2 linked regions of the Homo sapiens genome follow. The protein of the gene in region 1 purifies or fractionates together with the protein of each later gene. This does not show direct contact. Each region holds a gene or a part of one and is shown on either strand. Other genes may lie near its edges.

What was found.
Region 2: the proteins of PPP1R14C (region 1) and HMGCS1 purify together in Homo sapiens (affinity purification with mass spectrometry; one large-scale study listed by BioGRID and IntAct). This does not show direct contact.

The regions. Positions count from the first base shown.
Region 1 is NC_000006.12:150,215,858-150,219,678, reverse strand, and holds part of PPP1R14C (protein phosphatase 1 regulatory subunit 14C), read right to left. Parts: intron 2,856-3,821; coding exon 2,823-2,855; intron 1-2,822. UniProt on the Homo sapiens protein: Inhibitor of the PP1 regulatory subunit PPP1CA.
Region 2 is NC_000005.10:43,306,592-43,310,412, reverse strand, and holds part of HMGCS1 (hydroxymethylglutaryl-CoA synthase, cytoplasmic), read left to right. Parts: intron 1-2,568; exon of another isoform or gene 2,569-2,588; 5' UTR 2,589-2,647; intron 2,648-3,821. UniProt on the Homo sapiens protein: Catalyzes the condensation of acetyl-CoA with acetoacetyl-CoA to form HMG-CoA, which is converted by HMG-CoA reductase (HMGCR) into mevalonate, a precursor for cholesterol synthesis.

The sequences.
Region 1 (3,821 bases):
TCCAGATTGTTGTATAGGGGCTCCAGGAGAAAAGTCTGGGGGCAGAGGGATGGTAATGATGTGATTGAACAGTCAGGAAATATGTTACATGTTTGACAAACACACTGGAGAGTTCAACAAAAAATACCAATTGGTATTAGACAAAACCAAAGACAAGCGTTATGGCCGGGCACAGTGACTCACGCCTGTAATCCCAGCACTTTGGGAGGCCAAGGCAGGTGGATCACTTGGGGCCAGGAGTTTGAGACCAGCCTGGCCAACATGGCAAAACCCCATCTCTACTAAAAATACAAAAATTAGCTGGGCTTAGTAATCCCAGCTACTCAGGAGGCTGAAGCACAAGAATCACTTGAACCTGGGGGGCAGAGGTTGCGGTGAGCCAAGATTGTACCACTGCACTCCAGCCTAGGTGACAGAGCGAGACCCTGTCTCAAAATAATAATAATAATAATAATAAAGGCAAGGATTGTCAACTCCAAGAGAAACAAAGGGCTATACAAAAAGGAACCATGATCATATTTACTGTTAGCTTAACAGTGAAAAACATTTGTTTAAATCATAGTATTATAAACCTTGACTACTAATTTAACAAAATACTGTTAAATAACTGATGAGGGTATAGATGAAAAGGAATTGTGTGGAGAGAGAGAGAGTGATCATCTTTCTCCTAAAGTCAATAAATGAAAAAAAAACAGTAAATGCATATTTAAGAATAAAAGAATAAGTAGGCCAGGCATAGTGGCTCATGCCTGTAATTCCAGCACTTTGAGAGGCTGAAGCAGGAGGATAGCTTGAGGCCAGGAGTTCAAGACAAGTCTGGGCAACATAGTGAGACCCAGTCTCTATAAAAAAATAAAAATAATTTAGCTGGGTGTGGTAATGCACGACTGCAGTACTAGTTACTCAGGAGGCTGAGGTGGGAGAGTTGCTTGAATACAGGAGTTCGAGGCTGCAGGGAGTTATGATTGCACCACTGCACTCCAGCCTGGGTGACAGAATGAGACCCTGTCTCTAAAAGAAAAAAAGAAAGAAAAGAGCAAATAGCAGGGAAGGGAAACAGCCAAAAGCGCAAAAGTGTTGCTTATGAAAATATAGAAATACAATACATAAATATAATATAAAATAGGAAAAGGGCCTGAAAGGTGGAGAAAGTCACTGTTACCTTTTTAAAATAAGCCTCAGAATTTTTTTTTGGGGGGGGGGGTTCAGATGTATTAGTATTACATTAATTTAAATATATACATATAATATTGTTTTCTTTTTTCTTTTTTTTTCTGAGACGGAGTCTCGCTCTGTCGCCCAGGCTGGAGTGCAGTGGCGCAATCTCGGCTCACTGCAAGCTCCGCCTCCCAGGTTCACGCCATTCTCCTGCCTCAGCCTCCCGAGTAGCTAGGACTACAGGCACCGGCCACCACACCCGGCTAATTTTTTGTATTTTTAGTAGAGACGGGGTTTCACCGTGTTAGCCAGGATGGCCTCGATCTCCTGACCTCGTGATCCACCCGTCTCGGCCCCCCAAAGTGCTGTGATCACAGGCATGAGCCACCGCGACAGGCCAATTTTTTTTTCTTAAAAGACGAGATCTCGCCATGTTGACCAGGTTGGTCTTGAACTGCTGCACTCAAGTGATTGGCCTGGGATTACAGGTGTGGGCCACCAAGCCTGGTCTAAAAGTATATATTTTGGTGGCTAAAATTAAAATTAAAAATCTCTATGACTGCAAGATGTAATCAAAGCTGGAGGTTGGAAGCATAAAGCTCAAATAGGTAACTAGTCCCAAACCAAGTCATTGAAATCAGACACTTGTAAAAGCATGCTTTCCTCCCCCCTTTTAATTAGACCTCTTCAAAAATCAGAAGTCTTATCACCATTGCTTTGATGTTACAAACAGACTTCAAAACATCTGACGGATCTTATAATTTCTCCAATTTATCAGAGGAAGAAAGTACTTCTCTTGCTAATATTTTCATAACTGATTAAAACCTTAATTTCTACTATGTGCTGTCAGTCATGAGAGTCTACATGAAATGCTTTAGTCTAATCACATTAATGCTCATTTTTATGATAATGTTTATACATTACACTTGATAAATATCTAAACAAAGCATAACATTTTTTCCCAATAAAGGTAACTCTTTGGAAAGACAGACCTGCCTTTACGCTTTTAAAAAATACATACCGATAGGCCGGGTGCGGTGGCTCACACCTGTAATCCCAGCACTTTGGGAGGCCGAGGCGGGTGAATACCTGAGGTCAGGAGTTTGAGACCAGCCTGGCCAACATGGTGAAACCCCGTCTCTACTAAAAATACAAAAATTAGCCGGGCGTGGTGACGCACGTCTGTAATCCCAGCTACTCAGGAGGCTGAGGCGGGAGAATTGGTTGAACTCAGGAGGCGGAGGTTGCAGTGAGCCGAGATCACACCACTGCACTCCAACCTGCGCAACAGAGCGAGACTCCGTCTCAAAAAAAAAAAAAAAAAATACATACCAATAAACCAATAGAATATATAAACCAGTTATAAACCTAAAACTTTTACTAAAATGATTCCAAACCCTTTCACAATTTCCTTTGAAGTTTGGCTTTTATCTAACACAAGCAACACACTCTGCTCCATTAATTTTAAGTATCTCTGAACTAGACATGTTTAGGCTTAGAAATAATGAAGTTAGAGCTATTCAAACATATGCACTCATGGATAATAATTGCTAATTGGTATACACACACTCAAACCTACTTATTGTGGTTTGCTTTAAAAATAGACAAATTGATTTAATAAAAACCAGTTCAAACATGGCATTTAGGAAAAGTGATTTGCTTACCTCTGTTGGTTTGTAGCAGTCTACAAGAGCTTCCTAGAATTAAACACACAGAAAATCAGTTTTATTATTTTAAAATTCAGCATTATTTTTAAGGCAAAATTAAAAATCATTTTATATTCATAGTATTATTTTATAATGGTAAATCAAGATTTCATACTATCTAGAAACGCACTTCATTTCAGCACCAGTTGGTAGTCTGAAGATAGAAAACGTTTAACCTTCATAAATTCTTCAGCCTGCATACACATGTGCTACATAGAAGTTTTTTGAACAGGAAAATATTTATTTTTTTTTTTTGCTACCATAGCATTGAAAACAAAATATAACCCTTGACCAGTTTTGTTTGTTTGTTTGTTTGTTTTGAGACAGAATCTCGCTCTGTCACCCAGACTAGAGTGCAGTGGTGCGATCTCAGCTCATTGCAACTTCTGCCTCCCAGTTCAAGTGATTCTCCTGCCTCAGCCTTCCGAATAGCTGGGACTACAGGTGTGCACCACCACACCCGGCTAGTTTTTGTATTTTTAGTAGAGACAGGTTTTTGCCCTGTTAGCCAGGCTGGTCTCGAACTCCCGACCTCAGGTGATCCACCCGCCTTGGCCTCCCAAAGCACTGGGATTACAGGCGTGAGCTACCATGCCCAGCCCCTTGACCAGGTTTTGAATGTCTTGCTGAGGAAAAAAGCTTCTTTTAAAAAAGGACAGGGATGCTCAAGCATCCATTAGGTTGCAGACTTCAGAGAGATGTGGACTAATTTAGTAGCTCAAATCCAGGATGGCCTTCCACAGGAACCAAATCCCCCTTTCCGGTTTTCCTTCAATTAACTGGATATAACCCGGCAGGATCCAAATGGTTTCAAACCCACTCCTCTGGTCAATGACTTTTTACCTCCTCTGTATGCACACGCGCATGCACACACCTTTCCTTTGGCTGCCAACTTGGTGGATATTCAAGTTGAGCCAGCCTGTGCAAGATGGTGGCACCCACACTGCACTCAGGAAG
Region 2 (3,821 bases), on another chromosome or scaffold:
ATAACTAGTTTTCCATAGAGAGTAGGCTATGTAGACTTGGGTATGAATGACCTACCTCTGTAGAAGTGCAGGTCCCTGATTAGAAAACTTATTTTCTGTGTGATTTATCGAGGAAAGCTTCCAGGAAGAGGTGACTTAGAACAGGGCCTTGAAGATGAGTAGAATCTCTGATACGCAGACCAGTAACTCTGGGAGGAGGCAGGGATGTCCATGCTTTTTACTTGGAGAACTATACCAGAGTGTACAGGTTTGAGCAAGTCTTTCTTAACATTAGTTTTTACTTGCTTGCTCCTAAGGAGGAAAGGTTGCCAACTTGTTCTTAATTTCCTAGATTTATCTCCTGTAACAATGAGAAAGATCAATAGGTAACTGTTTATATTTTATAGTTTACATACCAAAATGTGTAGGCAATGAACTTCTCCAACCACTTCTTTGAATCAAGGCTAAGGAGGGAGCCAGAAGGAAGTATTCAGAACACTGAGTAAACTCCAGAAGAAACTACCATTGCATAAATCTGGTTGGCCCTAGGCAGTCTTATCATTCTTGTGTTTTAGTCTTTGCCAGACTCAAAGTGCCTATATTTCATCCCATGAGTCTGCAAACCTGCTTTGTGGTAACCTGCCTGGCTACTTGCCATTCATTAACTGCTTCTTGACCCATGTTGATTCCCTCTGTCACTTACTCTGAAAAGACCTGTTAGAAATAAGCTTGTGATCTGCTTGAGACTTTGGCAATACTGGTTTAGCCAGAATAGAGAAATCCTTAAGTAGCACAGCAATCCTTTCTGAATCTTCTATTTGTTTCTTCTTTGTTCTCTGTGTCTCTCCCACCTAACATCCCTCTCCAATTTAAGTAATCAAAATAGAAAGAGGGGCCCAGGCAAGGTGGCCCACGCCTATAATCCCAGCACTTTGGGAGGCCAAAGTGGGTGGATTGGTTTAGCCCAGGAGTTGGAGAACAGCCTGGGAAAGATGGCAAAACCCCATCTCTACAAAAAATACAAAAATCAGCTGTGTATTGTGGCATGTGCCTGTAGTCCCAGCTACTTGCGGGGTCTGAGACAGGAGGATCACTTGAGCCTGGGAGGTCGAGGTTACAGTGAGCAGTGACTGGAATGCTACTGCATTCCAGTCTGGGTGACAGAGGGAGACCCTGTCTCAAAAAAAAAAAAAAATTTGAGGGAATATAGGCAGTGCAAGGAAAGGCAGAATATAGGCAGTTCAAGGAAAATTTCCTTGATACAAGTAGTGTCAAATGCATATACATACATGAACATCAAGAAGAAATATTATTATTTAAGTAGTCTTAACATGGAGAAGGAATCTTGTTTTTCAAGAACTGGTCTCTGTGGTCTGCTTAATTTGCAGAAGACAAAGGCATAATTTGAGATAATAAAGAACAAAGATAGGTTATTTTCTCAAAGTATGTATAATTACAGTTAATTAGAGACATTTTTGGAATATTGTAGTATTCTTTGCCTACAAAACTCAAGATCTATTTCTTTTTATGGGGCAGGGGGGCGTAGGTGGGTAGTAAACTTAGTTAATGAAGTAAAAGGCGCTACGACTGAAGAGCTCTTAAATTATGTAATTATGTAAAAAAAGTAAAGCTTTATTAAATATTAATAACATCCGAATGTAGTTACCAGTGAATCCATTAAGGGCAGATGCTAAATTTGCCAGTAATTAAATAGAGAGCAGAGGAAATGGTGTATGCTGTGTTAAACATAGAAGTTGCCATCTCAAGTAACAATCAGTCTTTCAAAACAGATGGACTGAAGAATATGTTCCAGTCACCTTCGCAAATTATTTCTACTTAATTTACATAATAATGTTTAATGCTCCTTTGTCTAAATGCTTAATTTTTTAACATAAGCAGTAAGAGGGAAAATCACTTTATAAAAGGTTGGGAGGGTGAAGGTGGCAGTGTTGAAAATGATTAGGTCTTGCTAGAAAAAATACCTTTATTTTCTTTGAAAAACACTTATAAGAACTATAAGAACTAAGGTAATAGTCAGTGTATTGGTGCTTTGTGTTACAAAGTGTCTTCACATATTTTATCATCTCAGCAATCCTTCACAATGATCTGGGGAGGGCAACTGTATTAGCTTCATTTTATAGATGAGGAAACTGAGGTCCAGAATTGCTGCCAAAGCCACAATCTGTTACATGCAGTGCAGGCTCTTGACTGCATATATCTCTTTACTCTAGAAATTTGCTAACTCATTACAACTTGTTTATATTCCTTTCCCCCAATTCTTGAAAACCTTGGTTTAAAGCCTCAATTGGTGACATGGGCTTCTTATTTCCTTGAGGTTTTTTTGTTTATTCCTTCCTGCAATAGTAGGCTTCTTATATCCGTTTATTACCAGGACTGAACCTTTCACTATAAGGGCTATGAAAATAAGGGGGAAAATGTTCTATAAGCTTTAAGTATGATTTTTTCTAAGCAAATGTCAAATTCTATTCTGCATAATGTAATTGGATAAGGAATTGCTTATTTTAACTCACTTTGAATTGGATTCATTAGTATTTGAATTTGGGTAGTGATTTATAACTTTAAAAGCAGTTCTTGTTTGAAATTCCTAGTGCCCGAAGGAGGAAACAGTGACAGACCTGGAGACTGCAGTTCTCTATCCTTCACACAGGTATGACATCCTGTCATGCTGCTTAAGGAAAGTATTCCTCTCTAATGGAAGGAGGAAACTTGGTATCCTAGAGAAAATAACGATTTGTTTGTGCCATATGTTCTTAAAACCCCTTTTAGGGTTCTACCTCATCTTTAAAATTCTGTTAATGCTTTAATGCTTCAGGAAACTAATTTTATGTTTATTAGACTAATGTTTAAAATCTAGAAACAAATTTTAAAAATTAGTGTTCACTCATAAGAGAAAAAGTACTTATAATAAAATGTAATTACATGGACTACTTAATCAGAAACAATCAGAGGTAAACATGACTGCCATTAGTGCTTTTTAAATTATGGCCTCAAAAGATATGTATCTGGGCTGTGGATGAATGTTTAAAATTATGTAAGAATGGGCCAGGCACAGTGGCTCACGTCTGTAATCCCACCACTTTGGGAGGCTGTGGCGGGTGGATCACCTGAGGTCAGGAATTTGAGACCAGCCTGGCCAACATGGTAAAACCCAGTCTCTACTAAAAATACAAAAAAATTAGCCAGGCTTGGTGGCAGGTGCCTGTAAGTCAAGCAGCTCAGGAGGCTGAGGCAAGAGAATCGCTTGAACCCAGAAGTCGGAGGTTGCAGTGAGCTGAGATTGCGCCACTGCACTCCAGCCTGGGCAACAGAGTGGGACTCTGTCTCAAAAAAAAAAAAAAAAAAAAATTATGTGAGAATGGACAGTAATTTCAAATGTGTTTCAACTGGTAATCTAATTATTTGCAGCCATTGCTTTCTCATATTGTCAGGGAGTGCTTCTCTTACAATTCTGCTTTTTTTGTATTTCAAGATTATGATTTCCTATGGGTGTTAATGACTTTAGATTAGAAGTCTAGTACCATTTCATTTATTCAACATTAGCATCTACCATATGCCAAACAGTGGGTTGGGTACCGGGGACACAAAAATGAACAAAGCACGGTTCCTGCTCTCCAAAAGCTCCTTGTTTAATGCAGAGAGGCTAAGCCTAAATAATAGAGGAGAAACTTGGCAGTTTGAAATATAAATTGAATTTTCCTTATCTGAACAATGCTTGGGACCAGCAATGTTAAAGATTTTGGATTTTTCTGGGTCTTGGAATATTTGAGAAAACATACCATTTGAGCAGCCCTAATCTGGAAATCCAAAATCCAAAATGTTCC